Regions from separate parts of the Homo sapiens genome. Here region 2 is linked to region 1. Evidence: fine-mapped expression QTL. Tissue or cell type: monocytes after Pam3CSK4. Region 1 holds a variant in brackets; the other region holds the start of a gene. All regions are shown on one strand. Distances are from middle to middle.

Region 1 (15,811 bases):
TCGTGTTCTTTTGCCCGCAGGAATGTCAGTGAGTGCCAGGCTGACCCCTCAGAGCAATCTGCCTTAATCTAGAGAGCATTCGTGTTCTGGCTGGATCATTACACTTTGGAGCTCTTTTTGACCTTTTTGTTGATTTTCAGGGTTGGATGGAATGGCAACCGTAAAGGTCATTCTGTACAGGGTGGAGCTTCTCCTGGAAGAGTTTGCCCTTAACTTAGGTGACAACATGTGTTTTCTCCACCAGTGTCTACGATGAACCACATCTTCCTGATCAGAAAATATCACTTTAAAAAAAAGACTCTGGGGCCTGGCGCAGTGGCTTACCCTTGTAATCCCAGAACTTTGGGAGGCCAAGGTGGGCAGGTCACTTGAGGTCAGGAGTTTGAGACCAGCCTGGCCAACATGGTGAAACCCCCTCTCTACCACAAAATACAAAAATTAGACAGGCATGGTGGCACGCGCCTGTAGTCTCAGCTACTCGGGAGGCTGAGGTGGATTTGAATTGCTTGAACCTGGGAGGCAGAGGTTGCAGTGAGCTGAGATGGTGCCAGTGCACTTCAGCCTGGGGAACAGAGTGACACTTGTCTCCAAAAAAAAAAAAAAAAAAAACAAGACAAACAAACAAAAACAACCCCAGGAAAGAGGATTGGTTGCACTGTCTTTCTTGGTTATATCTTTTTATGTTTTCAAGACATACTATTGGGAAAGTTCTACCTAAGATCTAACTGAAATCCCCCACAGTACAATCCACACTCATGTTCTCTTGTTTTGTGAAGATGGAAGAATACCTAGTGGATCTTTGTTTTTGAGAGTATTTCTCCCAAGACTCACTGTTGCTCAGCTTGGCCTGTTGCTTCCAGATTCCGAGGAAGGTCCAGGCTTTGTACTTGGACCTCACTGGTTCTCTAGTAGGGTCTGTGAGCCTCTGCAGACTTCTTTTATTATTATTTTTTTTAGATGGAGTCTCTCTTTGTCGCCCAGACTTGAGTGCAGTGGCATGATCTCGGCTCACTACACCCTCCACCTCCCAGGTTCAAGAGATTCTCCCGCCTCAGCCTCCCGAGTAGCTGGGATTACAGGTGTGTGCCACCACGCCCGGCTAATATTTGTGTTTTTAGTAGAGATGGGGTTTCACCATGTTGGCCAGGCTAATCTCGAACTCCTGACCTCGAGTGATCCACCCGCCTTGCCCTCCCAAACTGCTGGGATTAGAGGCATGAGCCACCACGCCCAGCCCTCTGCAGACTTCTTGGAGGAGTTTTCAGCCATTGTCAGCCATGTATGTTTGAAGGCAGGGCTGTCTTAGAGGTTAACAGAGAGGACAGTCGCCTGCCCATTCAGAAAGTTCTCAGAACACTGAAAATTTCTCTCTCTCTGAAGTGCCTTCTCCATGCTTGGATTGCTTCTTAAAATGCCTTTTGCTTCACTGCCAGAGAGATGCGACTGAAAATGCAGATAACTCAGGAGAGGTAATTCTCACGATTCATCAGACACTTATTGTGCGCTTACTGGGAACCTGGCACTGTTGCTGTGTGCTTGGGATACAAAAATGGATGCAAGCTGGGCATGGCGGTGTGTGCGTGTAGTCCCAGCTACTTGGGAGGCTGAGGTGGGAGGATAACTTGAGCCCAGGAGTTTGAGACCAGCCTGGGTGACAGAGTAAGACCCTGTCTCGGAAGAAAGAAAGAAAAGAAAAGAAAGGAAAGAAAGAAAAAGAAAGGGAGAAAGAGAGAAAGAGAAAGAGAGGCAAGAAAGGCAGGAAAGGCAAGAAAAGATGGTTACAGATGTCCCTTCCATTGGGGAGCTCCCAATTGAGTGTGTGGGAGATCACTATGTAAAAGTTAATTTCAGTGGCATATGGCATTCAGACTAAAGCATGAAAAAAAAATTGATCTGAGGACAGGATCTGCTGGGTGGGAGAGGAGAAGAGGGGCTTAGGGCCTTGATTTTACCAAATCTTCACCTATTTCACTCACACTCAGCTGCCACCTGTCAGCACCTGTTTCTGTCAGACAGACGGGTCTCTCAGAGAATCCAGTCATCCTGGTAGATGGGATTTGTGAAATTATTTCCACCTTCAGAAAAACTGAGAAGTCTAGGGCCATGAAGCTGGTCAGTGACAGAGGTGGATCTAGAATACAGGTCTCCGGCAACCAGAACAAGGGTTCAGTTTACTGTGTTTCTCAGGGAGCCCATATTCATCCAGGAAGGAGCCGTATCTTCAGGCAGTGAGTCATGACGCTCAGGCTGGGCCCCTCCATCTGTGGGGACAGGGTGACAGTTTTTCCTAGGACGACTGCCCCAGCACCAGTCCTAGAGACAGGCTGAGGCAGCATGGGTTGGAGGCTCTGGTTCTGCTAATTTTCTCGCTGTGTGGTCCTGGGCAGATTACTCACTCTCTCTGGGCCTCAGTGAGATTATAAAATGGAGAGTGTACATTTCTGTTTCATCTTGTTAGACAAAATTAAGCACATGTGTCTGAAGAGTTATGCTAATGCATATATTAGTTTACAAAAGCAAAGACATTTGTGCCTATCTATGAGGCCTCCAAGTCTGCTTCTCTGGTTAGTGGAGGCTGGAAGAGTGATTTATTCCTTCTTTGGTTATTTATGAGATGTTGCTTTTCTGATCTATTGATGGGTGCTGAAAAACTGCCTGTAAACCTAGTTTGTTTTTTTTAACCTCCCACAATAGTTATCTTAACCTAGTGTTTATAGTTTAAGGGCTGCTCTCATCTGTATGTCCCTTCAGTGTTGGCCTGCTTAAGATTCCGACTCCAGGTTTCTTCTTTTATATATGTATTTAAAAAAAAAGAGAGAGAGAGAGACAGGGTCTTGCTATGTTGCCTAGGCTGGTCTCAAACTGCTGGACTCAAGCAATCCTCTTGCCTTGGCCTCCCAAAGTATTGGGCTTCCAGGTGTGGTCCACAGAGCCTGGCCCCAGGTTTCTTCTTATTTCTCCTCCTTTTCCTCCTTTTACCCTTTCTCTCGCTCACTCTCTTTCTCACCCTCCCCCTTGTACTATTTTTTTATTATTTTTTTTTGAGGCAGTCTTGCTCTGTTGCCCAGGCTGGAGTGCAGTGGCCCAATCTCGGCTCACTGCAACCTTTGCCTCCTGGGTTCAAGCGATTCTCGTGTGTGCCACCACACCCAGCTAACTTTTGTATTTTTGGTAGAGACGGGGTTTCGCCATATTGGCCGGGCTGGTCTCATACGCTTGGTCTCAAGCAATTCGCCCGCCTTGGCCTCCCAAGTGCTGGGATTACAGGCATGAGCCAGCATGCCCAGCCTCCACTTTCTACTTCTAAATCCATATACTGTCCTGGGGCGATTTCATCCATTCTCTTGGCTTTAATTATTCCTGTCTGAGACCTCATATTTTTCCTGGGCCTTAGGCTTATACCTCCACCTGACTAATGGGCAGTTCCACTGCGATGTTCTTCAAAACTCAGCTTGTCTTTTTGTAATTGAACTCATTATTTTTCCCTTCAAACCAGTTCCCTCCATTCTGTTACTTACATTGGGGCTTGGTACTTTTTGTTTTCACGAGGCTTCTCTCCCTCCAAGCAAATGTTCCTCAAGCCTGCCTTCTCAGCTCCATCACCATAGCCGGCTCTCACGTGTATTACACAAGCATCCTGACTCCATCACAGCCCCTCTCCTGTGCTTCTTCTCTCTGCAGCCAGAAAGGTCTTCATAACCTCACTTCTGTTCCCCTCCTGCTTCATCCACCTGCTGCTCTTGTGTGCTCTGCCTCCAGCCAGTCTGACCTTTTAGTTCCATGAATGGGATGCTCTCTTATTTCCAGGTTTCATCAACGTTGTTCCGTCAGACAGAATTCCTTTTTCATAACACTGACCTACTTTGCCACCGTAAGGCCTTTTCGTTTGTTTAGTTAGCCTTTCCTCTAGGGAATGGTTCTTGACTGAGGTCTTCATTATGTCTGTGTTTCTGAAGCATCCTGCACTGGAGTGTGATAACGTGCTCGCATTGTATCGTTTATTAGATCCTACACACTGAAGGCAGAGTTTATTTTATTCAGTGTTTGTTTTATTCAGTGCCTGCTAAGCTCTTTGCATGGAACATGGTAGGAGCTCAGTAAGCATGTGTTTAGGGAATGAATGAATAATCAAATGATGAAAGCCTCTAAGGAAATTCGATTTTCATGGAATTCTACGATAAATCATTTTGCAAAGCAAGGAGTCCTCTTGAAGCTGAATAATTACCCCTTCATATGCCATTTATGTAAATCTGTACTATTATGTATTGGCTTGTTTGTCTGTCTTTAACCTGTTGGTTTCTGTTCTGGTTTTAACTGGGTTCTGAGTCTTTAGTAAGTGCCCAGAGAGCAGACACTGCTTTTTATTTTTATTTTTTCATATATCACCCAGGGTGGAGATTGCTGGTGAGATATTGACTCACTGCAGCCTTGACATCCTGATCTCTTGAATAGCTGGGTCTGCAGATGCATGCCACCATGCCTGGCTTTTTTTTTTTTTTTTTGAGACAGGGTCTAACTCTGTCACCCAGCACTCAGGTTGGAACACAGTAGCACAATCATGGCTCACTGAAGCCTCAACTTCCCAAGCTCAAGTGATCCTCCTGCCTCAGCCTCCTGAGTAGCTGGGGTTTACAGGCATGTGCCACTATGCTCGGCTAGATTTTTCTACTTTTTGTAGAGACAGGATCCTGCTATGTTGCCCAGGCTGGTCTTGAACTCCTAGGCTCAAGGGATCCTTCTGCCTCAGCCTCCCAATGTGTTGGGATTACAGGCATGAGTCACCACACCTGAACCAGAGACTGCCGTTCTAAAGGTAGTCTCTATTCAGGGGAGCCAAACTTGGCATAGTTAGGTGGAGAGTGATCAGTCTTTCCCAAAATGAGGTTCCAGAGAGCACAAGCACATTGGGAACAATATTTTGTTTGATGGTGGACCCAGGGCCCTGGTATAGTCTGCAAACAGCAGTTAGGTTTTTTTCCCCACCAAAGACCCATAACAGTTTTGAAGAGCATTTATTTTTGGAGCTGTGGTTGCCATGGTAATGCAATACTTTTTCTCGTCTTCTGATTCCAGGTCAGGGCAACAGTTGTTCCTCCTGCAGGGGAAGAGGATTTTGGAATATATGCATCCTTCCACCTTTTTTCCCCAACTAACTAATCCAACAAACATTTATTGAACATACACTACATGCCAGATACCGTTCCTAACACCAGGAATAATAGTGAACAAAATAGAGTCTGCCCTACAGGGGCTTCTCTAGTGGGGTAGAGAGACTGTCAGCAAATTATCAGTGCAATATTGGTCCCTATTTGTTTAAAAGCGAATTATTTGGCCACATCACTGAAAGGGAATTAGTTTGTTTTCTAAAATTTGGAAATCAAGAGTTGTAAAAGAAGTGTCTTCCATACTGCTTTGAAGAGCGATATGGGAGCGGGGAGGAGCTGGTGGCTAAATGTGGGAAGCTGACTCTCTTCCCACTGATAGTGGGACTTCATTGGATTTGTGTGGGCACTTTGGAATGCAGATGCATTTGGTGCTCTGACATCATCTAAGACCTTGGGAGATGACAGGATTAAGCTGGGTCTCTCTGCAGCTGTCAGATGTCAAAGCTGTTGCTCTTCTGGTGTTTGTGGGAGTCTCTTGGCACTAACAGAAGCCAAGAGCCAAAGAGCTGCCAGAAATGGCCCTTTATTATCCAGTGTAATGAAAGCCTGGAAAACAGGCAGGGAATGCCATTTATTAAGCTACCACAGAGTGCGGTACCTTAAACTGGGCTCCAAGAAGGAAGGTAGAGAGGAAAGAGGGGGTACTGATACCTGCTGTTGGGAGCGTCCCATCAGGGTGGCAGAGAATGGCACTCACAAGGACACAAATGAAAATGATGCAGACAATAGCAATTTATCACAATCTCTTAATTTGAGTAGCACTTTACCTTTTCAAAACAATTTACCAGGCCATGGGCTCTCCCACGGAAGGGACAGGGTATAATTATTCTTTGTGATTGCTGTAGCACTGGCACACACCAGGATGTCCAGTGACAAGCGTATGGCATGACAATCTATTACCTCATTTGTTCCTGCATCCTGTGGGGCAGATGTAATGAGTAGACCCACCTGGCACTTAAGGAAATGGGGATTCTGAAATATGCCCACATCCATACAGCTAAGTAATGCTAGAAACCAGACTCAAAAAGAGGTTGTGTCATGTCACTTTTAATTTAGGGCCCTTTCTTTGTTGTACCATACGTGTGTTGTATCTGACATTATACTGAGGCTTATGGATACATGCTGACAGTGTGGGTAATTCAAATCCACAGGAAATGAAACATAAAGACCAAACATTTTAACTAGCAGTTTCGGTGTGCTCCACTGTTTGAAAGCAGCAGCTTCTGTGAACAGCTTTGACTGGATTTTACCTCCCCTGCTCCCCTTCCCATTTGGAGGGACACATTACACAGTCAGGCTGCCAGAGAGAGGAGAGTCCAAATCCCGCCAGCCAGCACTTGTTGCTTGGCTGCTATGTGCTGGCCACTGAGGTGTGGCTGGCTTCTTCTCTTGAAAGATGTAGTCTAGTTTATTTATTATTCATTCATTTGTTTGACAGCAGATTATATATATATATGTATGTATGGTGGTGTTCTCTCGCCCAGGCTGGAGTACAGTGGCATGATCATAGCTCACTGCAGCCTCTAAATCCTGGGCTCAAGTGATCCTTTTGTCTCAACCTCCTGAGTAGCCGGGACCACAGGCACGTGCCACCATGCCCAGTTAATTTTTTAGATTTTTATAGAGACAGGGTCTCACTATGTTTTCCGGGTTAGTCTTGAACTCCCAGCCTCAAGAAATTCTCTTTCCTTGGCCTCCTAAAATGTTGGGATTACAGATGGGAGCCACTGCACCCAGTCCGACAGCAGATTTTTTTGACCATCCGTTAGGCAGTCAGTGCAAGTAATTGTGAACAAATGTAAAAATTTAAAATGTGACAGTCAAGTCCAACAGAGCTTAAAGGAAAAACATATAATAAAAATGTGACAAGTGCATCTAAGAAGAGGACAGCAGTAACTGTTACATTTGGTAATCCTGGCAATTAGCCAGATCTTGTGAAGGACATTTTTTCTGGTAGAAGACCTTCCTTGGCCAGGCATGGTGGCTTATGCCTGTAGTCCCAGCACTTTGGGAGGCCGAGGCAGGTGGATCGCCTGAGGTCAGGAGTTCGAGACCAGCCTGGCCAACATGGTGAAACCCTGTCTCTACTAAAAATACAAAAATTAGCCAGGCGTGGTGATGGGTACCTGTAATTTCAGCTACTCGGGAGTCTGAGGCAGCACAATTGCTTGAACCTGGGAGGTGGAGGTTGCGGTGAGCCAAGATGGTGCCACTGCACTCCAGCCTGGGTGACAGAGTGAGACTCTGTCTCAAAAAAAAAAGACCTTCCTTAATAAGTGGAGTTGGATAGACATTTTGCTTTGGAAAACAGAAGCTATTTACTCTCAATATTAGGTCTACTTCATTCATTTCACAGAATAGGCAAAGATGTCTGGGGCTTTGCTCACTAGGGAATTCTGGCCATGGCCTTTTGCTTCTCTTCTAACCAGGCCTTTTGCTTCTCTTCTCCCTTTTTGCCAGATGTAGAACCACCAGGCTTCCCTTTCATTTCTCCAGGAAAGAAGGGGTAGGGAAGTGAAAGTTCGGTCTTGTGTTTCACAGGCACCACTGAAGTAAAGAATTCAATATTTAGATAATTTTGTGTTACTTTCAGTGCATTTTTCTGACCTTGTTCCTCATAACCATGGAGAATCTAGAGTTCTAGAGCATTTTACCTTAATTAATGACTAGTTTAAGGCCTTTTTGGGTGGCTAGTTTGGAAATGACTCATATTCATGGTCTTGATCAGTTCAACAGTATCCTTAGAAGGTTAGGAAGAAACAATTGTCAGTGTGCAAATAACTCCAAACCTCTAATCCAGCTTAAATTGAAAAATACAGTGGAATATATACATGCAGAAACATAAACGTTTTCTAATAAATATATGTATATATCTAATACACATCAATATATATTAAATATAAGTATATATGTATATGCAAGTATATATATCTTTTTATTTTAAGACAATCTCACTCTGTCATCTAGGCTGGAGTGCAGTGGTGCAATCCTGGCTCACTGCACCCTCTGCCTCCTGGGTTCAAGCAATTCTCATGCCTCAGCCTCCCAAGTAGCAGAAATTACAGGCACGCGCCACCACACACAGCTAATTTTTGTATTTTTAGTAGAGACGGGGTTTCGCCATGTTGGGCAGGCTGGTCTTGAACTCCTGACCTCAAGTAATCCTCCTGCCCCAGCCTCCCAAAGTGCTGGGATTACAGACATGAGCCACCGTGCCTGGCAATATATAGGTATGTATTTTTTAAACCTGGATATTCCTTAGGGCAGGCTAAGTACTTTTTGGTCCTGGAATACTGACTCAAATTTCAGAAAGAAATTTTAATTTGCCTGTTGCATATGATACTTGTTTTAATACCAGCAATTGGACTCAAACCTATGCACCTCAGGGAGATTTCTGGATCTTGCCTGTTTTATTATAGGGGAGGACAAAGTAAACCCAAAGAGGGCTGAGCAATGGAGCATCTGAAGTCCCAGGTCGCTACTGATTGTGAATTCGAGGGTGATCAGGGACAGCTAAGAAACAGAAATGTGTTTCTATTTCTTCCAAGGCTCTGTATCTTTGTAAAATCCCGTTGATAATGGCCCATGCCAACACTGTTCCTCACCTATCCCCACCTCTAGCAAGGCCAGGGTAAATACTTTCCCAGCAGCTGAGTGTGACTTTTATCCTGGTAATAATTTCAATCCTGCTTCCATGGAGTAAAATTCCAGACTGGGACAAGCGTTCTTTCCGCAGGCAGCTTTGCATCATCAGCTTCCTCTTACACACATTGGTCATCATGATAATACCTACCTTGAAGACTGGTTTGCAGATGAAATAAGATAAGGCATCTCTCCAATTTCCTGACATCCTGTAGATACTCACTTCCTGGTTACTTCCTTTGTCCCTCTCCCCTTTAAATTTAAGAGAAGGAGGTGTTTTCATATGGGTGTCATTTGGGGCCAAGCTTATCTGATCTGAAGGACAGGCCCCAGGGCTTGCGTTGTTTTTTCGTCATTGCCAGGCAC[C/T]TTTGCTGAGTCATTTGGGGTTGGCAGACCTGGAAAAGACAGCGGTTTAGAGAGTGGTTAGTGCCGTGATCAGCCAACGCAGGCTCTATTGTCTGTTAGTATTTCCTGGTGCACTTTTGGAACCTGATCTGCCCTTCTCATGGTTAAGGGCAGGGGATGAGTAACTAGCCATGGGGATGTTCTGCATATCTTGCCTTGTGCTGAATTTCCTATAAAATGGCTTCATGAAACTTTGATGTCAGCTTAAGCAGTACTGCCACCAGGCTCTGCGGAGGGCCCTAAGTGAATAGAGGGCAGCAGTGTCTTCCAAATTTGAAATGAGTGACAGTGGGTTATAATTAGGGGAGAAGATGCTCTTGATGCTACTGAGAAGATACAGAGTGAGAACTTTTCTTAGAAAAGTCTGAGGTTGTAAAGAAGAACCAAGGTAAGATTTAAAGATTGCCTCTGAGAGATAGGAGACATATGTGGGAATAGGACTGGTTTTACATGTCCCCTAAAATGCTTATTCCATCTTTAGTGAGGCTGTATTTGTGGGACTAGGTGCATGTAATTCTTATGTTTAAAGAAATGCTTTAACTTGTTATATCTGAAGGATGTTTTATGAGCACTTAGTCTTTTACTAGTTTTGTGATGTTTTATCCCCATCAACATCAATGACAAGTATTGTTTGAATATGTACTTCATGTAAGATGTATAAGAGCCCTACTTAATATTTAGGGAAGTAGGAAATTGAACATTTAAGTCTATTTTTTGCCCAACATATAGAGATGAGAGGGAAAAATATTTGATTAAACTATAATCTTTGTGTCTATTATGACTAGGTAGAGATTCCTTAGGATGAACTAAAATCAAAACAGATTTCACTAGAATTTATTTTTATTTTTTATTTTATAAAAACGAGGGTCTTACTATGTTGTCCTAGCAACATAGTAAGGAGTCTCGAACTCCTGGGCTCAAGTGATCTGCCTTCCTCGGCCTCCCAGTGTGCTAGGATTACAGGCATGAGCCACCGCGCCTGGCCAGATTTTACAAGAATCTGCTTGTGAATTCCCTTCAAAATTAAAATTACACTGGAACCCCTTCTGATGATATGCATTCCACTCAATTGATCATTCATCCTCTACTTGCTATCGAACTGCTGCGCTCACCATGCAATACGGCATAGTTTGCAAAGCCACGGACTCTGGAGTGATCTGCATGGATTCTGTCCAGGCTCTGCCACTTACTCTCTGCCCTTAACATATTTTTTAGCTTTTTTGAGGCTACATTCTTCAGCTTTATTGTCTTTATAACACTTTGTACTTCTGAAATTATCATCTTCTTTTATTTTTCTCTGTTGATGATCTGTCTCTCATTTCTGCATCCCTTCTGCTAAACCATAAGAATTTGAGGTCCTTGAGAGCAGGGACCTTTGCCCCATCTGTTTATTACTGTGTTCCCAGTGGTTAGAAAACAGCCTGGCATATAGAAAACACTCAACCAGGCCGGGTGGGGTGGCTCGCTCCTGTAGTCCCAGCACTTTGGGAGGCCAAGGTGGGCGGATCATTTGAGGTCAGGAGTTCGAGACCAGCCTGACCAACATGGTGAAATCCTGTCTCTACTAAAAATACAAAAAATTAGCTGGGTGTGGTGGCACACACCTGTAATCCCAGCTACTCGGAAGCCTGAGGCACGAGAATCGCTTGAACCAGGGAGGTGGAGGGAGGTTGCAGTGAGCCAAGATTGCACCACTGTACTCCAGCCTGGGCGACAGAGAGAGACTGTCTCAAAAACAAAACAAAACAAAAAAGAACAACACACTCAACAATGGCATATCCATTTTATAGAATGAGCAACTGTTAACAGTTATCCTTCTTGTCAGCAGAAGCACCAGAGGGTTAAGAAAAAAGTTTCAGATGCCTTCTCTGCCCACCAGGAGTTTGACATTCTTGTTCTCTAAGGGCAGCATTGGTGTTGTGGAAAGAGCCCCGAGAGTCAGCAAACTCGAGTTTTATTCTTTGCAGTGCTACTAAATACCTCTGTGACTTTACACTTGTCATTTACCTTCTTTGGGCTGTTGGTTTCCTGTTTGAAAAAGAAAAAATTGGGGCCAAGTGTGGTGGCGCATGCCTATAATCCCAGCACTTTGGGAGGCTGAGGCAGGCAGATCACTTGAGCCCCTGAATTTGAGACCAGCCTGGGCAATGTCATGAGACCTCGTCTCTACAGAAAATACAGAAAATAACCAGGTGTGGCCAGGCGCAATGACTCACGCCTATAATTCCAGCACTTTGGGAGGCTGAGTCAGGCAGATCACTTGAGGTCAGGAGTTTGAGACCAGACTGGTCAAAATGATGAAACTCCGTCTCTACTAAATATACAAAAATTAGCCAGGTGTGGTGGTGCACACCTGTAGTCCCAGCTACTGTGGAGGCTGAGGCAGGAGAATCACTTGAACCTGGGAGGCAGAGGTTGCTGTGAGCTGAGATGGCGCCACTGTACTCCAGCCTGGGCGACAGAGGGAGACTCTGTCTCAAAAAAAAAAAAAAAAAAGAAAAAGAAAAGAAAGAAAGAACTAGGTGTGGTGGCACATGCCTCATGCCTGTGGTCCCAGGTACTCGGGAGGCTGAGATGGGAGGATTGCTTAAGCCCAGGAGGTCAAGGCTGCAGTGAGCTGTGATGGCACCACTGCACTCTAACCTGGGTGACAGAGAGAGACCCTTTCTGAGAAAAAAAGAAAGAAAGAAAGAAAGAATTAGAACAGTTTATCCCTCGAATCCCTTCCTGCTGTGAAGTATCGGCTCATGATTTTATTAATAAAATTAGAGATTGTTATAAAATGATAACCTGGAAAGAGAGTAACAGTTAAAGGACACACTTATCAAATGAGCATACAGGAAGTGAACCAGGAAGCCACATTTCTGTGTCTCTGTTAGCTGCCTCTAAACCACGTTTGTTCTTAGACTGCTATTCTTTCCCCACTGTCCAGCCAGCGTCAGCCTACCCTCGTGGTTTAGTTCACGTGTTTTAGAATAGCCAGCAACTCCCTTCTTTCTCAATCTTTGTGTCTTCCACTTAGCCTTCAAACAGGCTTAATGGAAGATTTCTTAGCTTAGCGTCATGGGACTTTTAAGGCTAGACAGGGCCTATGTGATTGTCTAGCACACTCTGTTCATTTTACAGATAAGCAAACTGAAGTTCAGAACAATGGGGCAACTTGCTCTGTGTTCTACGGAGTCCATGACAGAGTCAGTGCTGGACCCAGCCTTATGAGCCTGGCTCTGGTGCTATTGCTCCACTGTGCTCCGTGCTCTATTTTCCACATATTTTATTTTATGTATTTGTTTTTTGAGATGGGGTCTCACTCTATCGCCTGGGCTGGAGTGCGCTGGTGCAATCACGCTTACTGCAGCCACGACCTCCTGGGCTCAAGTGATCCTCCTACCTCAGCTTCTGAGTAGCTGAGACTACAGGCATGCACCACCGCACCTGGCTAATTTCTCCACTTTTTTGTAGAGACAGGGTCCTGCTATGTTATCCAAGGTGGTCTTGAACTCCTGGGCTCAAGGAATCCTCCTGCCTCGGCCTCCCAAAATGTTGGGATTACAGGCGTAAGCCACCATGCCTGGCTGCCACATATTTTAAATAGATGAGTACCACTTTATGCATGACTCCACGATAAGTGCGTATGTATGCTACACAGAACCTAGTTGGAGTTCTGAGAGAGAGAGAGAGGAGAGGGGAGGGGATTAGGGGAATTGGCTTACATGATTATGGAGGCTGAGAAGTCCCACAACACACCGGAGACCCTGGGATGCTGGTAGCGTGGCTCAGTCCAAGTCTGCAGGCCTCAGAACCAGAGAAGCTGATGTTGTAACTCTCGGTTTGAGGCCAAAGGCCTAGAACTCAGAGAGCCACTGAGGGACAGAGAGAGGAAGAATATAATCCAACTCTGGCAGTTCCATTCACATATTCACCTTTTCTCAGTTTTTGTTTTCCAGGCCCCCAGCAGAATGGATGGTGCCCACTCACAATGAGGGCGGATCTTCCGCACCTAGTCCACTCAGACTCACATGCTGATCTCTTCTGGCAACATCTTCACAGACACGCCCAAAAATAATGCTTTACCGGGTTCCTAGGTAGTCTTTAATCCAGTCAAACTGACACCTAAAATTAACCATCACAATTACCTTCTCACTAAAATCAATCTGAGAAGAAAATGGTCATAAAGAATTTGATGCAAATCCCTTTTTTGATTTATAGGATGAACAGTATCCTAGATAAGGAAACAGTGAAAGGCTGTTTTGTTTTTTTTTTTTTTTCCCCTCCTCTTCATACTCCCCAATGTGAGTAATGGGCAAAAAATTCCAGGAGAATGGGAGCATTCTGAGTGATAAGAACAAGTATCTCTCAACATGTAGAGTGTGTATACGGGTGGGTTATTTTCAAATTTCAAGTCTGCAAATGGGTAGTTCCAGGTATGGCTTGGTGATTGAAGTGGAGGTTCTTTTGGGGCTAGTCCTTTGTGCTCCTGTAATTTCCCCCCAACTCTGAGTCTGAGCTCAGTGAGAACAATCACTTTAATGCTTAATGCACACCGTAATACACAGCGGAGTTAACAGAATATTCAGACAATCACAGACACAATGGCCTTCCTAGCCATGAGTTTGGAAAAGTGTTTCTAGGAGCTTGTTGTAGCAGAGGCTGTGTAGATGACAAAGAACATGCACTGCATTGTAGATGGGTTATAGTTATGGTGACCAGCCCTTGGAGTTAGGGCAGATTGGGGTATTTGATTGCAAAGAAATAAGACACTTCTATATATTTTTTTTTAATTTGCTGATCATGGGAAAATCTTCATGAACCCTTATCTTCTTTTTTTTTTTTTGAGATGGAGTTTTGCTTTTGTCACCCAGGCGAGAGTGCAGTGGCATGATCTGGGCTCACTGCAACCTCCATCTCCTGGGTTCAAGCAATTCTCCTGCCTCAGCCTCCAGAGTAGCTGGGATTACAGGTGTGAGCCACCATACCTGGCTAATTTTCTATTTTTAATAGAGGTGGGGTTTTGCCATGTTGTCTAGGCTGGTCTCCAACTCCCGACTTCAGATGATCCACCCACCTCGGCCTCCCAAATTGTTGAGATTACAGGCATGCACCACTGTGGTCGGCCATATTCATGATTTAAAGGAATTGAAGATAAAAGAATTGAGTTTGATAAAAAAGAGAGAGAAGAATATTATTTTCTTCAAATACTGACTTTTAAGTGAGATAGTGTGCAAAAAATCCATATACTAGGTACTCAAATACCTGTTAGTTGACCCTTCCCCTATGATGTGAACTGGTTATTCACAACTATCTTTATACTTTAAGTCCTGTTCCTAAACACACACTGAGGTTCTGGAGGGCAGGGCTGGGTCTTAGGTAAATTTGTTCTGCTACCTTCTCACTGGACACCTGGCTCACCCAAAGCTTGCCTCTCATCTGTTTTCTGTGTACAGATTGCCATTCAAAAAGTGTTTTCTGAGTGAATGAATTATTTACTTTATGGAGCATCAACATCCTTTTTATGTTCTTGTCCATTTTTATGTCCTTGTCCTCACCCTTGTCCCTTCAAGTTCAGTGGGTCCCAGAACTGAACTTGAAGAGAGTTAATTGGATATAGGCCAGGAGTGTGATTGGACATACGTGTGTGTGTGTTTCATTAAAATTCTCAAACTAAAAATAAATGGTTTGTGGATTAGTCAACTTCTGTTTTCTTCTGCTCGATATCCTGAATTATCCAGTACCTGTTGCCTCCATGCTACTGAAAAGTGACCATGTGTGGTATGACAAGCTTATCAGAAGGCTGTCAAAGTGCTTGGCAGAGAAGACATGGAGTTTAATCCTGAGTGGAAAATGGCATTGTGGAAACAGATGAATTATAGTAGATGAATATAGTAGAAAATATAGTAGATGAATTAAAGTACATGAATTATCTACTTTGTGGACCATCAAAATCCTTTTTATGTTCTTGTCCAAGTTCAGTGGGTTCCGGGACTGAACTTGAAGAGGGTTAATTGGATATAGGCCAGGAGCGTGATTGGGCAGATTTGTGGCAATTACACCTAGACACCGTGACTCCAGCCCCAGTCAATGCGGGGATTTCTCCCCAGGCCCCCCAGGGCACTCTGTGAGTGTTAATGACCAGAGTTTTTGGTTAGGACTGTTTTTATGTCTTCCAATTGGAAAAAACAAGATAATGCTTTTACCATAAGCCAGTTTTTCCCGGGGCTAAGGGCAAATGAAATTGGATGGTGGTTGGGTCAGCAGGATTTGGGGGGCGGACAGGAGTGGGGCAGGGAAGGGGAGGCAGGAAGCTGAAAGGATTCTTTCTGGAAAACAGCACAGCTTGCGGGCTGCTTGTCCTTGAGCTCCGAGGTCACTAGAGCGGTTGGTCTTTGATAGGGTTTCTGCATGAATCCCCTGCTCCTACGTTTCCTTTGTCCCTTTAGGACCCAAGAATCCATCTGCCTTCCCAGGTGCATCAGCTTCTCCTTTCCTTGGGCGCCTCTTTCCTGGGCCGTCCAGGAAGAACACAAGGCTCTCTGTGTCTTTCCCACCTCGTGACCTTTTGGAATTCACATATTTTTGGCTTTTTAAGAGGTTTGGCTTGTGTT
Region 2 (15,811 bases), 22 kb before region 1:
ATGTGGGTCTTCTGCTGGAAATATGACCCCCTTGTTCAACATGGAAAATGCCTCTGCTCACGTTCAAACCTTGACTAGGTACTGTCTTCTCTGTGAAATTCTCTCTGGATCAGGATCCTTCTCCCTCGTGTTCACTCTGCATTTGGTACACATTTCTCCTGAAGTAAATTTACCAAATTGTAGTTCTTGGACTGGTTTTCTGCTCCTTCCTCCCTTCCCCCAGATTTGAAGCAACTGAGGCCAGAGTCATCTTTGATAGGCATTCAAAAAATATTTGTAGGAAGCAATAATCATTTTTCATAAACTTTTCAGAAACTTCACACTACTTACTATTAAGGTATGCTTAGAGTCTGGGAAGATTAAATACTTTTTGATTGATTTGCTAGATTACCAGGTACACCACGAAGCTCCAATTTTCTTAGCAGATATAGGCAGAACTCCATTGTAAATGGCATAATCATACAGTCACATTTTGTTCCTCTAAAACATAACATCTACCAACAATAAGACACACACACACACACACACACACAGATTAAAAGAAAAAAAAACCTTATCCCCAACCCCAAATGTTCCCTCTCCTCTCCTTTCTTCTCCCCTCCACTCCCCTCCTCTCTCCTCTTCTCTTCTCTCTCTCCTTTTGCTCCCACTCCAACCACAAGTAACTTTTCACAGTCTAACTCTAGGCATTAGAAGGATGTTTAACACTTAGTAGATGCTCAAAAACTATTTGAAAATAGATGTCCCTCATTCTTTTTGCTGACTAATTTCTGGAAAGGGCAGTCTAATCTTGCAGCTTCCATTAATTCATTCCCTAACTACTCTTCAACCCATAGCAATCTCATTTCTTCTCTGACCACTCTACTGAAATTGTTGTCTCAGAGGTCATCAATGACCTAATTACAAAATTTAATGGAATTATCTCTGTCTTTCTTCTGCCTGACTTCATTATAGGATATAGCATCATTTATCTCTTTGAAATGTAGTATACTTTAAAAAGTATAAGTTTTAAAGCAAAGAGACCCTTGTTTAAATTTGTGTTCATCTTCTACTAGCTGTGTGAACTTGGGCAAGTCACCTTGTAAAATCTCTCATCATCTTGAAATAGGGCTTTTGATATTTATTTCTCAGAGTTGTTGCAAGAGTCAGCTGGGATTTTGTGGGTGAAGCACTCAGCACAGCGCCTGGCTTAGTGTAGCCATGCAATAAACGCCTCCTTTCTCCCCTCGGCTTCCCAGTGATTGCTGTTTCTTGGTTTTCTTCCAGAGGTTCCTCCTTTTCCTTGCCTATCTCCTCTCATTCCACATTTTTCCCCTGCCCTATTTCAGATTTTCTCCATCTCTTACCAGAACTATTTGCCATTCATATGGTCAATATTCCAAAAATATTGGCTGATTGAATGATAGTCTCCTAATTGGTTTTTATGGTTCCCATCTGCTTTTTTCTCCAATTCAAATTTCATGCTGTCACCAGAGTTGATGCTTCTCAAATACAGGTTAGTAATGCAGTCCCCCAACACCAAAAAAAAAAAAAAAAAGAAAAAAGAAAACCACCAAACCCAAACCAATCTGAATAGCAACCCTTGCCTAAAGAATAAAATCTATAATTCAACACTAGGCTAGGTGTGGTGGCTCGCACCTGTAATCCCAGCACTTTGGAAGGCTGAGATAGGAGGATCCCTTTGGACCAGAAGTTCAAGACAAGCCTGGACAACATAGCAAGACCCTGTCTCTAATTAAAAACAAACAACCAACCAAAAACCCTTCTGCACTGCAATCTGACCCCTCATTTGTCCAGCCTCATTGTCTAATCCTGTATGTCTCACCCTATGCTCTGACTTATCTTTTCCTATTTTCAAAACCTCTTTGTGAGTTTTCACTCCTCAATGCTTTTATTCAAACTGCTAACACCCTATTCTTTTTTATTGAAATTCTGACTTGAAGTATTAACTTAAATACCCATTCCTCCATAGGACCTGCTTAGACTACCTCTTTTCCTCTAGTTAAAATTTATCAATCTTTCCAGTCACACCTCTTGTGCACTTGTATTTTGCACTTAATTAATTCTGCTTTGAGGGATCATGTGCTCCAATGCACCATGTGTATCTTATTTATCTAGCTATATCCCAAGGACTTCCTGAACAAGGAGCTTTACACAGTGTTCTAGCGTAACAACTACTTGTAGAATTAAACTGAGTTGAAAATCAACAAGAATAGTCCTGTTTCCTACGAAGGGTATTATAAAGGAAACTTATACATAACAAAGGCTAACATTTATGGAGCACTTACTGTGTGCCAAACTCTGTTCTAAGTGCCCTACACAGCACTAATGCTCACAATCACTCCAGCAAGGAGATGCTATTTATTTACTTAATTTTTCAGATGAGAAACTGAGTTGCAGAGAAGTTAAATAACTTAACCGTAATAAAACTGCTAGCAAGTGATGGAAACAGGTCCAAAACTCAGGTGGCTTGATTTTGGGTCTGCACACTCAATCACTAGTCGGTAGTTAGTATAAGCTGATGATATTTTGCAATGCTTCTGAGGAAAGCAACAGCAGAAATTCCAGCACATGCCACCTGCTTTCCTTGGGATGGGCAGCCAAGGACAGGTGGGGCGACCTCAGAAAGTCTTTTGCAGCCCTGGTTTGCACATAAGTCCTTGCAAGATTTAGAGGACAAGAGATGATGTCCTTCTGTGCCTTGGTATCCTTGGTGTCAAGTACAAGGGCAGCCAAATATTGTGCAAAACATTCTTCTTTGACGCCTAAGCCTTTTGATGAGCGATTAAACCAAGGAGGCTTATCTGGTGACAGTCCTTCTCCTGAGGTGACGTCACTGCTCACCCTGGCCCCTGTGAGGGCTGTTGGAAACAAAGAGCTGACCCTGTGTACTCCCCAAGGTTGAGAGCACTGCCCAGGGCTCTATTCTCGGAAACTGAGTCTCCATCAAAGTCCTGAAGCATTTTCTCCCTTTTTCCTTGGAAGGAGAAGCTGGATGTGGTGGTTGGTCAACTGTGGTTTGATTTAGGTTGTATTTAACCAGCACCAGCCTCCTCCTCCACACTGCTTCTCTAACCACACCAATTCAGTGCAGCATCCTCTGACCCTTCTTAAAGTAGTGAGCCCCTCCCTGGGGAAATGAAGGGAGGACTCGTGAAAGAAACAAAAGGAGATACCATGGGGAGGAGTTTAAGTTATTCCCTCCAATTCTTTCTCCTGTCTTCATCCCCGAACCCTCACTTCCTTGCTTCAGCACCATCCTGGTAATTGATCCCTGTATTTCTAGTTCACCAGTGCAAGATATTAAAGCTATTTGTGGGTCTCAGGGAGGTGTTTAGCATCCGGTGATCAAAATGCCTTTGAGCCAGTAACAGGTCAGCTCAAACAGACTTTGTTTTAGGTGTAAGTGAATTGCTTCTACTTTAAAAAGAAACAATCTGGGTCTTAGAGACCCACAGTAGTAGGGTGGGCTGGGCCTTTAAGAGATCATCTCTTTCCTGCCACTGCCTCTAAGTAGGCTCCAGTTACCTTTAAAAGACCTACAGAGAAAGCCATTCTCTACCCAGTCTTAGTCATTCAGGCCAGTCCTTAACCAGCCTTACACTCGGTAAATGTTTATCATCTATCCCAAATCCCCCATGCTGCACTCTACAGAAATGCATTTCCTCTTGCTCAGCAGCAAAATGAGAGCTGCAGAGTGAAATCTGGCCATCCTTCATTGTGTGTTTGAAGACAGTCAACATTGCTCTCAGCATCATCCACGTTTCTGTCCGTATTTCCAGCTTCCCTGCCAGCCTCAAATTCCACTTCTTCTATGCTCACTGCCTGCTTCTTTCCCTCATAATGGGCCAACCGTTGGGATTGGCCGTTCGAATGTTGTGTAGGGGAGAGACTCTGTGTCCCAGTGTTGAGAGTGGGGATTGTCTGTCTTGCAACAACAGTGTTGTGGGGAGACATTCCTGTGTCTTTGGGAGTTCCCTGCCTTGGCATCCTGGAGCAGGTGCAATAAGGTGTCCGGGGTGCCAGCGCCTTCCAGTTCACATTTACTTGGATGTGTACCCAGGAGAAATCTAGTCTGGAAGCTACTATGTTTCACTAAAGTTTTCCCCTGGAAATTGAATAATAATAGTAGTTTATGAGTCTCCAGAAGTAATAGACAGGTGTTGGGTGTCTTGTGTCTGTAGGAAAAGGGAGCTTGTGCAGCTGAGAATAAACAACAGTTGCTTGGTAATATGACCTCCTTTCATTTAAAGTCAGAGGCCTGGCTGCAGGTGGGGAAAGGGGAGGCTGGGTTGTTCTGGTTACCACCTGTCTGGGGAAGCGGGGAATGGGGGCAAAGGTGAGGTCTGTTTCACAGAGAACTGTGCGGTCGCTGAGAGCCAAATATTGGAGAGAAGAAATATGGGAGTGGGGAGACTTGGGGAGCAAGTGCAATCGCTGAGATTCTGACGCAGGGCATGAAAACTCTTTGGTTCTGATGTTGGCACCAGCTACTTTGAGAAATTGTTTCTCTACACTTTTGGAGGCCTCTAAACTGGCTTCAGAAGGCATGAGTTCCAATTCTGGCCTTGTCATTGATTAGCCATCATCATTTATCTGTGACCTTGGATAAACTACTGAATCTCTCTGTCCCACTTTCATCAATTGTAAAGGCCGCTGGGAAGACACAGTGTGATGTATGAAAGCTCTTTCCAAAAGTGTAAAGGTCACCATACACATAACAAGCACAGGATACTGGAGAGAATTAAAGGAAGGAGAAACTTGATTCTTTTCTCAAGGAGCTTATAGTCTTAACAGTAATGTTGGCTCACAGCTGTAGGGCATTTCATATTTCAAAGCAGTGCCTCATTTATTATCTTACTTGCCAGAGCCATGGGCAACAGAAACAGCTGGAAAGGGCTGAAGGATGTGTTTTGAACAGGGTTTTAACGGTCAAAAGGGTTATGGCTTGAAAAAAAGAAGGGACTGCAGGTGCAAGTGAGTAAGGACAGCGTTCAGGCTAAGAGAGCTCAGGGTATCTGCTTCCCAATCAAGTGAAACATTTTAGATTCCTGCTTGGAGGTTTTCCCTCAGGCCGGGTGAAATGTAAATGATCACTCTTAGCCACTGCTGTGCCCAAGGCTTGAATTAAATCTCACAGGATTTCAGTTCCAGAATCTACTGTGAGTGGGAAAAGTGGCTGAAGTGTGTGGGAAGAGGGTGCTGGTGGCTTTTCTTCCTTGTAAGAGGTATACACTTAAATTCAGAGTGCCCAGAACAAACTTAAAGCTTCCTCCCTTGTTTCTTCTCCCTCTTCCCAAGCTGCCCATAGAATCTTCTGGCCCCTGTCTTGTGGACCATCCTTTTGTGTTTTTGGCCTCCAAGCGAATGGTGGTGTCCTGGCTTCCTTTCTTCCCATAAGCCCCTGAGACCCTCATCTTCTATGTCAAGAGCCCGCCCAAAACTCAGGTTCCTTGAACTGGGAAGTTATCAGATCCCTTGCAAAACACTCGTCCTTGGAGGAAGTACAAGGCAGTGAACAAACTCTGTGGAACTTGGCTTAGCTCCCGATCCTGAAGTTTGGAGTTACAGTGCAATCTCCTCAGCATCCCTGGAGCCGGAAGAGGTGACCTTGGCAGGCCTGACACCTGATGGCAAGGGGTTTCTGCTTTCTGTGCTATGTCCAGGAGTTAAAGTAGAGTGAAACCAAATCACTCCTGAGAGGGCCAGTGGCTGGATTTCAGAAACGGGGGCTGACATTCCAGGGAGTCATTTATGGGAGGGCCTGGCCTTGGCTCTTCAGCCGCAGTATCTCTCTCCCTGAGGAAGAAATATTTCCCTTGGTTTCCCAGCCTCTCAAAAGTTGTGTAATGTCAGGATGCCTTGAGCTTTTCCATACTTGACAAGTGTCATTGCAGAGCTTGGTAGATCCATAGCCAGCTGTCATCCTTGATGTCTTGCTGAACTGCAGGGATGTATTTACTTGCAGTGAATTCTTGTGATCTTTAGGGATGTGAATTTTCCTCAGCTTCGGGACACTTGTGAAATGTGACTTTTGTCCTGGCACGGAAGCTGGGCATTGGCTCCCAGATGGAAACTGGACTCTGAGAGAGGCAGAAAAGAAGGGTGGATCAGATTGTGGACTTCATGGTATGTTCTTGGGTGCTTCTCATGATCTCTTTGAAAGTTACTGACCAGGCTGGGCATGGTGGCTCATGCCTGTAATCTCAGCACTTTGGGAGGCCAAGGTGGGCAGATCACTTGAGGCCAGGAGTTTGAGACCAGCCTGGGCAATATAGCAAGACCTCATATCGACAAAAAGAAATAAAACTTAGCTGCGTGTGGTGGTGCGCACCTGTACTCCCAGCTACTCAGGAGGCTCAGCTGGGAGGACAGCTTGAGCCCAGGAATTCAAGGTTGCGGTGAGCCATGACTGCACCACTGCACTCCAGCCTGGGCAACAGAGTGAGACTTTGTCTCTTAAAAACAAAACAAAACAAAACAGTTACTGACCCAAGAGACAAATGCATTGGGCTGGGGTTGAAGGAGGAGAATGGCTGCTACAGCCCTGCTCTAGGAGCTGGGCTGGGTTAGACTCAGTGCCCACAGAGAGCACCTAAATAGGATGGATCGGTTCTAGGGTTGATGATCTCTTAGGGCCTGGGTCTAGAGAGTGAGTGTGGTTCAGCACATCTTGGGATGCTACCAGGACTGAACCAGACTTCCTAGGTTCCATGACATGGGGACATACTGGATTCTGTGACTCAGTCCATGGCAGGCTGAAGCAGAACTGAATCAGCCCTCAGCAATGTAAGGGGGGGTACCCTCGACTCCCTGGGGCTCTGTTGGATGCATTGCTTTGTGGGTGCTCACCGACTCCTCATTTCATTCTTTGCTAGGGACGCGGCTATGGTACTGGCAGCTGGCTCATGTACAGGGTTCAGGCCCCATTTTCCTTACTGGTCCTGTGTCCTTTGTCTCTCAGACCCTGTTGTCTGTCTTTCCTTGGTATGTCATGTCTGGTATCCTCAGCTCACGCCGCCACGGGAGAACTGTCCTCTTCTCAGCTTGTCATTTTGGAAGCAGCCTCCAGCAACCTTGCTTTCCTCCTCTGACTATACTCCGGCCTGCAGTGCCACTACTCACGCCCCCAAATAATTTAAACTGCCTTTCTTAGGAGACAAGAGCTAGTTGAAAAGTCTCCTCATTTTCCTTCAACCCTGTATCATGGGTGGCCTGAGAGAGTGAGGACTGAATTCATTGACTCCCCTTTCTCTGCACCCCCCACCCCCAAGGAAATAGCCGAGTTCGACTAATGGGAGTTGCCTGGCCAATCGTTGCCCTGAGAAAGTTTGGTTTGTGATCCTATTTCAGTAGGCTGATTGGAGCAGCCTTTACTTGGAGGTCGAGTCCCTCCCCGAGGGAATCCGTGTACAGTTACACTAGCGGTCGCTGCCAGTGCTAGCCCATTCAGGATAGCCCCCCTCACCCCGCCCCCAGCCCCCGCTCCTCCTCCTCCTTTTTTGTTTTTATCCAGTGTCTCGCTTCCTCTCTCTCTCTCTCTCTCTGTCTCTCTCTCCCTTTCCCTCCTACCACTGCCTCTTCCTCCCGCTCTCTACCTCCCTGCAGCGCCAAGCCGGCTCCCCAACCTGGTCTGCTGAACGCAAACCGCTGAGAGTTTGCTGCACCGCCCCCTGGGGCCCCTGGCTGCCGAGTCCCGCTAAGGCAAAGACGCCAGCAAGCGAGGAAGCGCAGCGGAAGAAAAACAAGCGGGCGCGCGAGGGGAGCCCCAGGAGGGCTGCCGAGTGGCTGGCAGGCGGCTCCCGCCCCTCCCGGGTGGCCTCGCCGGCGGCTGACGGCCCGGAGGACGCGCGCTCCGAAAAGTTAGACTCCGGGCGGCGGCGCGCTACGCCGCGTCCCCTCGCGTCCCTTCCTCGCTGCGCTCCGGGAAAGGAACTTGTTCCTTCGGCCCCAGGATTGGGGAGTGTGCCGCGGGGCCGAGGGTGGGGAACAGCCAGAGGGAGACGCGAACCAGGCCGCTGGCGGAGGGCTCAGGGGGAGCGCAGAGGCGACGGCCCCCATGCCGGCGGCCAACATGATGGAGAACCGGCCGCTGCCCGCCCTGCAGGTGCCCGAGCCGCAGGGTGCGCCCGAGGGCAGCCCGGTCTGGTCCAGTTCGTCGACCCCCACGCTTCGCCGCCGGCGCTTCAAGATGCGCCGCATGAAGAACGTACAGGAGCAGAGCCTGGAGGCCGGGCTGGCCCGGGACCTGCCCGCCGTCTTGGCCCCCGGCAAGGAGTTCCTGCAGCTGCCGTCCATCGAGATCACGCCCTCCAGCGACGAGGACACCCCGTGGTCCAACTGCTCCACACCCAGCGCGTCCCCGCGCCGAAAACGCTTCCTCCTCCGCAAGTGGCTGAGGGTGAGGGAGCGGAAGGAGTGCAGTGAAAGCAGGTACGTCCCCGTTCCGCCCGTCTCCTTCCCTTCCCTCCCGTCCTCTCCAGAGCCGTCCAGGGCCCCGGGGCATTCTGGGGGAAACGTCCTGGGGGAGAACAGGAGCCCGTCACCAGAGGCGCTTCTGGAGGGCGCTGCGCCTGGTCCCAGGGATGGTGGCATTCAGCTTCCACGCGTGCCACCCGCTCCCCAACTCAGGGTGAGGGGCTTCATGTTGCACGACACGTTTACGTGGGGCTTTACGCTGCATTCCATCTCCCTTGATCCTCGCAGCGAAATAAATAATAAAAATAATAACAGCTAATAGTTATTGAGCCCTTACCATGTGCGGGCCACTATGTTGCGCACTTCATGTACCTCCAGATTTCATCCCTACGCAAACTCTCTGAGGTAGGTATTACTATGGCTCCCTTTCTACAGAAGGAGATAGTAAAAGGCCAGAGAACAGTTAAGTGGTTTATATTTCAGGACTCCGTTTCAATCTTATTTTATGTTTGGCCACACCGGATTGCCTTAACTGGCTCACTTGTGTGGAAGTGAAATATTGACATTGAGTGAGTCACATTTCCTACCATATCAGAGTCTTTAGACATCGATACCTACAAGACTGTGGTTTGTACCAGCTAGTTTTTTGCCTAGGTCAATGTGGCATCTGGGTAATGGGAGAAGGTTGAGCTTCCCTCACGTAGAGAATTGCTGCAGGGCGCCCTAGAGCAGCTCTACACAGCCCTGGTCAGGACTGCTGCTTCAGGAAGTTGTGTCTGAGCCAAGCCCCTTGCCTGGTGGAGGGCAGGGAGTCCTCACTTGTTCATCGGTACCACGAATCCTACATATTTACTTTGAGACTTTAGGGTCCTGTCTCTTAATGGATTTGTGTTCTTGTGCGGAGCAACTGAGTCATTGATCACTTTCCCTGGAATTCCTTCTCCAAATCTGTTCAATTACATTGATTTCAATTCAGTAAGTACTTACTGAATATTTCTGTGAGCTCAGTCTAGTAACAGCTAATAGTGGTGATGTTGAGGAGGGTGTGGGGGAAGGATAGGTAGAGTAAGGGGTTGTAGAGGCTGAGAAGGAAGATGAGGGGAGGCTTGTATAAGAAATGAACACCTGGGCACAGTGGCTCACACCTGTAATCCCAGCACTTTGGGAGGCCGAAGCGTGTGGATCACTTGAGGTCAGGAGTTCGAGACCACCCTGGCCAACATGGCGAAACTCCATTTCTGTTAAAAGTACAAAAATTAGCTGGGTGTAGTGGCAGGCTCCTGTAATCCCAACTACTTGGGAGGCTGAGGCAAGAGAATCGCTTGAACCTGGGTACAGGGGCTGCAGTGAGCCAAGACTGTGCCACTGCACTCCAGCCTGGGCCACAGAGTGAGACTCTGTCTCAAAAAAAAAAAAAAAAATTGAAGACCTGTGGGAGCCATTGGAAAACATACTGTGCTGTGTGGTACTGATTGTACTAGAAAAGAGAGAGTTCTGGAGAAGTAGAGGAAGACTTCTTGAAGGAAGAGGCTGACACCATGACAAATACAGATGGGTAGTAGAAAACAGCAGGAAAAGAATGAGGTTGGGTGCATAAGACTGGCTGAAGGGAACAATATGAAGAATGGCAGGAGAAACAGGATGAGCCATGTGTCTTTGCGGGGTGGGGACTGAGGAGTAGGATCCGTTATGCAGAAGATGGGCATTTTGGGCCTTCCAGAGTTTATCTTTTCTGTTTGCAACAACTGAGCATGGTTCTCTCAGCAGGTGCAGATACAGAGCTTTGTTCCGTGGATTTTTGTGGACGCTGGGGATAGAAGTTCTTTCTGTTTGGTACTTCATCCTGCTACCCTTTTCACAGAGTAGAGGGAAATGGGGCAAGCTTGGTGGGAGCTAACCTTGAACTAAAGTAGTTTGTCAGGCCAGGGGCGGTGGCTAATGCCTGTAATCCCAGCACTTTGGGAGGCTGAGGCGGGAGGGTCACCTGAGGTGAGGCGGGAGGGTCACCTGAGGTCAGGAGTTCGAGACCAGCTTGGCCAACATGGTGAAACCCTGTCTCTACTAAAAATACAAAAAATTAGCCAGGTGTAGTAGCGGGTGCCTGTAATCCCAGCTACTCGGGAGGCCAAGGCGGGAGAATTGCTTGAACCCGGGAGGTGGAGGTTGCAGTGAGCCAAGATCGCGCCATTGCACTCCAGCCTGGGCAACAAGAGCGAAACTTCATCTTAAATGAATAAATAAATAAAGTAGTTTGTCATGGCTTGTCGGCTTTTCCCTCCAATGTAAAAGAAACTAAAAGAGACCTTCTTTTGATCTTGAGATTCTGCCATATATACTGAGGACAAAATATGGTAAAAAGAGCCGGGTGCAATGGCATGGCCTGTATTCCCAGCTACTTGGGTTGTGGTGTGAGGATCACATGAGCCCAAGAGTTCAAGGCTTTAGTAGGCTATAATGGTGCCTGTGAATAACCACTGCATTTCAGCCATGGTGAGACCCCCACCCCCAACGCTTAAAATGTTACGTGCGTGTGTGTGTGTGTGTGTGTGTGTGTGTGTGTGTCTTTGTGTGTATGAAGAAAAAAATCTTGCATTGCTGGCTAGGATGGGGATGACAGTAGATTTGGTTAGATTTAGGAAGGTATTCCTGGTTTCGAGAGTTGTCTATGTGTGTAGTGGAACCTTCATTTTGTTGGATTTGGGGACATATCCTTAAAATTTGGCAGGATTTTCATCTAGATGTAGTTCAGGCAGTTATTTTAAGTGGTGACTTTTGGATTAGAAGAACCTATGTATCAGCCGGGCGCAGTGGCTCACGCCTGTAATCCTAGCACTTTGGGAGGATGAGGCAGGCAGATTGCCTGAGCTCAGGAGTTAGCCACCAACTTGGGCAACACGGAGAAACACCGTCTCTACTAAAAATACAAAAATTAGCCAGGTGTGGTGGTGGACACCTGTAGTCCCAGCTACTCGGGAGGCTGAGGCAGGAGAATTGCTTGAACCTAGGAGGTGGAGGTTGCAGTGAGCCGAGATCTCGCCACTGCACTCCAGCCTGGGCAACAGAGTGAGACTCCGTTTCCAAAAAAAAAAAAAAAAAAAAAAAACCACCACCAACAAAAAACAAGAACATATGTATCTGAAAAGGCAGACTCTGGATTCAAATTCAAATTCGTGTGACTCACATCTACTCTTAGCTACTGTTATACTGCCTTCTGTTGGAATCTATTTGGATTGTGTGTAAAACAAAGCCCCATCATTTTTAGGCCTCGAAGATGAAAGGCTTCCTTCCAAGAAAAGCAGCAATCAAGTGAATAGGTGCTCGTAGATACCACCAAGTGGCCTGAGAAGGAATTGGTGGCGGGGTGTGGTAGCTCATGCCTGTAATCCCAGCACTTTGGGAGGCTGAGGAGGCAGATCATTTGAGGCCAGGAGTTCGAGACCAGCCTAGCCAACATGGCAAAACCCTGTTGCTACTAAAAATACAAAAATTAGCTGGACATGGTAGTGCGCGCCTGTAATCCCAGCTACTCAGGAGGCTGAGGCATGAGAATTGCTTGAACTTTGTGGGCAAAGGTTTCAGTGAGCTGAGATCACACCACTGCACTCCAGCCTGGGCGACAGAGCAAGACTCCATTTCCAAAAGAAAATAGAATTGGCATTTAGAGGCAATGGAGTGCAGGGAACATTGGACTTAATATCAGAAGACAGCTGTATATTTAAGTTCTATCATCGATTAGCTATGGAGATTAGCTTGAGCATTTCACTTTACCTCCATGAGTTTCACCTTCTTCATTTGTGGAAGAGGATCTCTGTGGGTTAATGGGAAGTCTGAAGAGTAGTGAATGTGAAAATGTTTTGCAAACTTCCTCTTGCTGTGCAAGGGTGAAGGCTTATTTCATTACTCTGTGAGTCTCTCACATGGAATGGATGTTTGCTTAAAAGTATGAGGTTACATACTCACGTGTCCTGGAGCAGCACCTGAGCCTCCTCACACAATTCAGGATTTGGAAATGATGGTTGGAAAATGGCTCTGCTCTGGCCTGGATTAGGGAGGATTAGCATACCAGGCCCAGCATGACGTCTCCACATTCCCCACCCCAAATCTCCTGCTCCAAAAGAGAGAAAAACACCTTTCAGGCTTGCTATGAAATTCAGCGTGATGTGGTAGAAGTTAAGTGGCTGAGAGGGCCATAGCTTGTGGATTTCTTTTAATTTTTGTTTTTTCATTATTTGTTTCATTATTTGTTTGTTTGTTTGTTTTTTTACTTGTCACTGACTTGAAGCTCAAGCTTGCGGATTTTCACTGCACAAAGTTGAAAATATGAAGAGGATTAGGAGACCCTTTTCTTCTCCTTAAACCCTAGGAAGGAAGAAGTGGAACAAATGGTAAAGACAGCATGGCTTACTAACTTTCCAGTGTTCACTGGAATACTCCAAGACCAATCATGTTCATCTTTGTATCGTCACAGCACTGTACCTGACCTCTTACAGTGATCTATAGATCTATAGATGTTTGTTGATGAGTTAATAATGAGTAAATAAATGATTCCTTTTTCTCTACTGTTTAAAGTGAAATTCTTTTATTCATGAGTGTGGGAAAATTTCCAAAAGGAGATGAGTACAGAGCTGAGTTTTTAAAAACAGCTTTATTGAGATATAATTTATATAATATACAATTCACCTATTTAAAGCATAATTCAGTGGTTTTTAATATATTCACAGCTATGTACAACCATCACCACAGTCAGTTTTTAAAAACGTTTGTTGCCCCACAAAGAAACTCATACTTTTTTTTTTTTTTTTTTTTTTTGAGACGGAGTCTCCCTCTCTCACCCAGGCTGGAGTGCAGTGGCTCAATCTCGGCTCACTGCAGCCTCTGCCTCCTGGGTTCAAGTGATTCTCCTGCCTAAGCCTCCTGAGTAGCTGGGATTACAGAAGCTCGCCACCACGCCCAGATAATTTTTGTATTTTTAGTAGAGACAGGGTTTCACCATGTTGGCCAGGTGGGTCTTGAACTCCTGACCTCATGATCTGCCCACCTCAGCCTCCCAAAGTGCTGGGATTACAGGCATGAACCACTGTGCCTGACTGAAACTCATACTTTTTGGCTAGCACCTTCACCCTCTCCATCCCATTTCCCCAGCCCTAGACAACCACTGATCTATAGAGAGCTGAGTTTTGAAGGGTTAACAAATGCCTATAGGTGAAAGCAGTTTGGATGTGTTGGCTTGAAGATAGAGATGGATGACCAAATGTGATCTTGTTGAGGAATGTGGAAAAATGAAGGTGGTGAGGCTGACAGACCGAAGGTGATTTATGCCAAAGAGTTTGAATTTCAATGAATCACTCAGTCATCAAACAGGTATTGAGATCCTATATGCAGAGCGCTTCCTAGGCAAAGTGAAGTCAATTCAATGAGGAGCTGTCGTAGATTCTGGAGCTTGGGAGAGACACTCTCAAAGTGTTGCTCGAGGCAACTACTTTCTGCTGTTCCGTGTAGTGGGGAGGAAGCGTGGGGAGGTGAAGGCCTGGAGTCTTGCTCTTTTCTTTCAGTGGTCTAACTGCAAAGCATCATCTTAACTACCATTGAACATAAGACGGCACAATTTTTTTTTATTATACTTTAAGTTTTAGGGTACATGTGCACAATGTGCAGGTTTGTTACATATGTATACATGTGCCATGTTGGTGTGCTGCACCCATTAACTCGTCATTTAACTTTAGGTGTGTCTCCTAATGCTATCCCTCCCCGCTCACCCTACCCCACAACAGGCCCTGGTGTGTGATGTTCCCCTTCCTGTGTCCATGTGTTCTCATTGTTCAATTCCCACCTATGAGTGAGAACATGCGGTGTTTGGTTTTTTGTCCTTGCGATAGTTTGCTGAGAATGATGGTTTCCAGCTTCATCCGTGTCCCTACAAAGGACATGAACTCATCCTTTTTTATGGCTGCATAGTATTCCATGGTGTATATGTGCCACATTTTCTTAATCCAGTCTATCAAGATGGCACAATTTTTTTGCTGGCCATGTTGCCCTCTGAGCTCAGGGAATAGCGTAGCCTGCAGTTGATGGGGCAGGCTCTTAGCATTAATACTCACATGTCTTTCTAACTTCCTTGCCCAAAACTGGTTGTGGTGATTGTTCAGAACCCAAACTGAGGATTGGAACCCTTCTCTGAATTGCTAGGTTCAGAAAACTCAGAAATTAGATGAAACCACATCTCCCAGGATGTCTTCTTGTCATCACTCTCTGGAGGGGGAAGGGAAAGCTGACGACGGGTGAGTGAGTTGGGTGGTGGCCAACTGCAGGCTCTTTCTAGGGGATGCAGAAGCACCTCTCTGCATCTCTGCCCAGTATACCTTCACTGTTACTATCTTTTGTACCATCTTTCACCTGGCTGTTATGTCCCTTCTTCTACATAACACACCTACCCCCGTCATGACTGCTCACAGTCTAGCAGGCTGGCGGCTAGAGAGTGGAGGGCCTCAGGGTTTCCACTTAGCTCCATGTCTGACCACTGGTAGTGCCGCTCACTAATTGTGCCCAGCATGCTAGGCTAGGTCATCTCTCTGGTGCCAGCCTAGCTGGCGTGTGGTTTGCCTGTAATGAATACACAGCATTGGTATATTTATCTTGATTCTTCATCTCCTTCCTCTGACCTTTGGAGGGAGACTTGTTTCGGGTTTCAGCTCCATTTCCAGGAGAGCAGGGTGATTTTGTGCATCTGAATGCTCTCCCCCTCAGCCCCCGTCACTATTGGTGTAGCTTCTCCGCTCTGTGTGTGCCCTGCTACATATGAGAAGCACAGGAAGTGTGGGAGAGAGAAAACTCATGTCCTTCTTAACACAAAGCAAAGAACAAATGCAAAGGAGACCTATGATTGGTCAGTGGATTAAGTAAGTGATCGGTGCTGGATAGGGTTAACTGGCAAAAACTTCCACCAGATTCATAATTCCTTGAGGGCAGGGACCGGTCTTACTTTGTGCCAAGTTTTCTGCCAAGCAGCCTTAAATACATTATCACATTAAATCCTCACAACAATGCCTCGGTCCCCCCAGGCAGGTTTTCCAGCTGAGGAACCTGAAGTTCAGAGATTAACATTCTCCTGGTCCAACAGAAGCAAGGCTGGGATTTGAAGCGTGTCCTAATTCCAAAGCCTGAGCTCATTACAGCTCCACTGCCCTATCCCCCCAGGGCCTGGAAGCAGTCAGCCCTCCCCTGCTTGAGAACTTGTAGATGTGGAGGGGGAGGTCCTGAAGCAAGGTAGGAATGTGGACAGTCGGGAGGCCATTGAGGAGATGTGTGTGAGGTTGTGGGAAGCAGAGAGGTGTGAGGATGACCCTGTTGACGGTCTAGGTGGACTCCTCCGTGAGAATCAGCTAGCGCCTGGCTG

Which allele goes with the higher level. Positions count from the first base shown, and alleles are read on the strand shown. Sizes are in standard deviations (SD) of each study's normalised expression.
In carriers of allele C in region 1, the expression in monocytes after Pam3CSK4 of the gene that starts at base 7,536 in region 2 tends to be lower than with T alone (large effect, 1.0 SD a copy in Quach 2016).

The links.
Region 2: it holds the start of GRAMD1B, and the variant in region 1 is fine-mapped to the expression of GRAMD1B in monocytes after Pam3CSK4 (Quach 2016, PIP 0.91).

The regions. Positions count from the first base shown.
Region 1 is chr11:123,445,230-123,461,040 of GRCh38, forward strand. The region is part of intron 1 of GRAMD1B (GRAM domain containing 1B); the gene reads left to right. Among named protein-coding and RNA genes, the nearest start is that of GRAMD1B, 23 kb to the left of the region's middle. The variant C/T (reference allele first, on the strand shown) is at 9,174.
Region 2 is chr11:123,422,734-123,438,544 of GRCh38, forward strand. GRAMD1B (GRAM domain containing 1B) reads left to right here and starts at 7,536. Exons shown (of 20, transcript NM_001387025.1): 1 at 7,536-8,433. The coding sequence starts at 8,060. It overlaps LOC124902776 (a long non-coding RNA gene), which reads right to left and starts at 8,481. Exons shown (of 2, transcript XR_007062928.1): 1 at 8,214-8,481; 2 at 2,343-6,083. RefSeq lists silencers at 7,674-8,003, 8,114-8,163.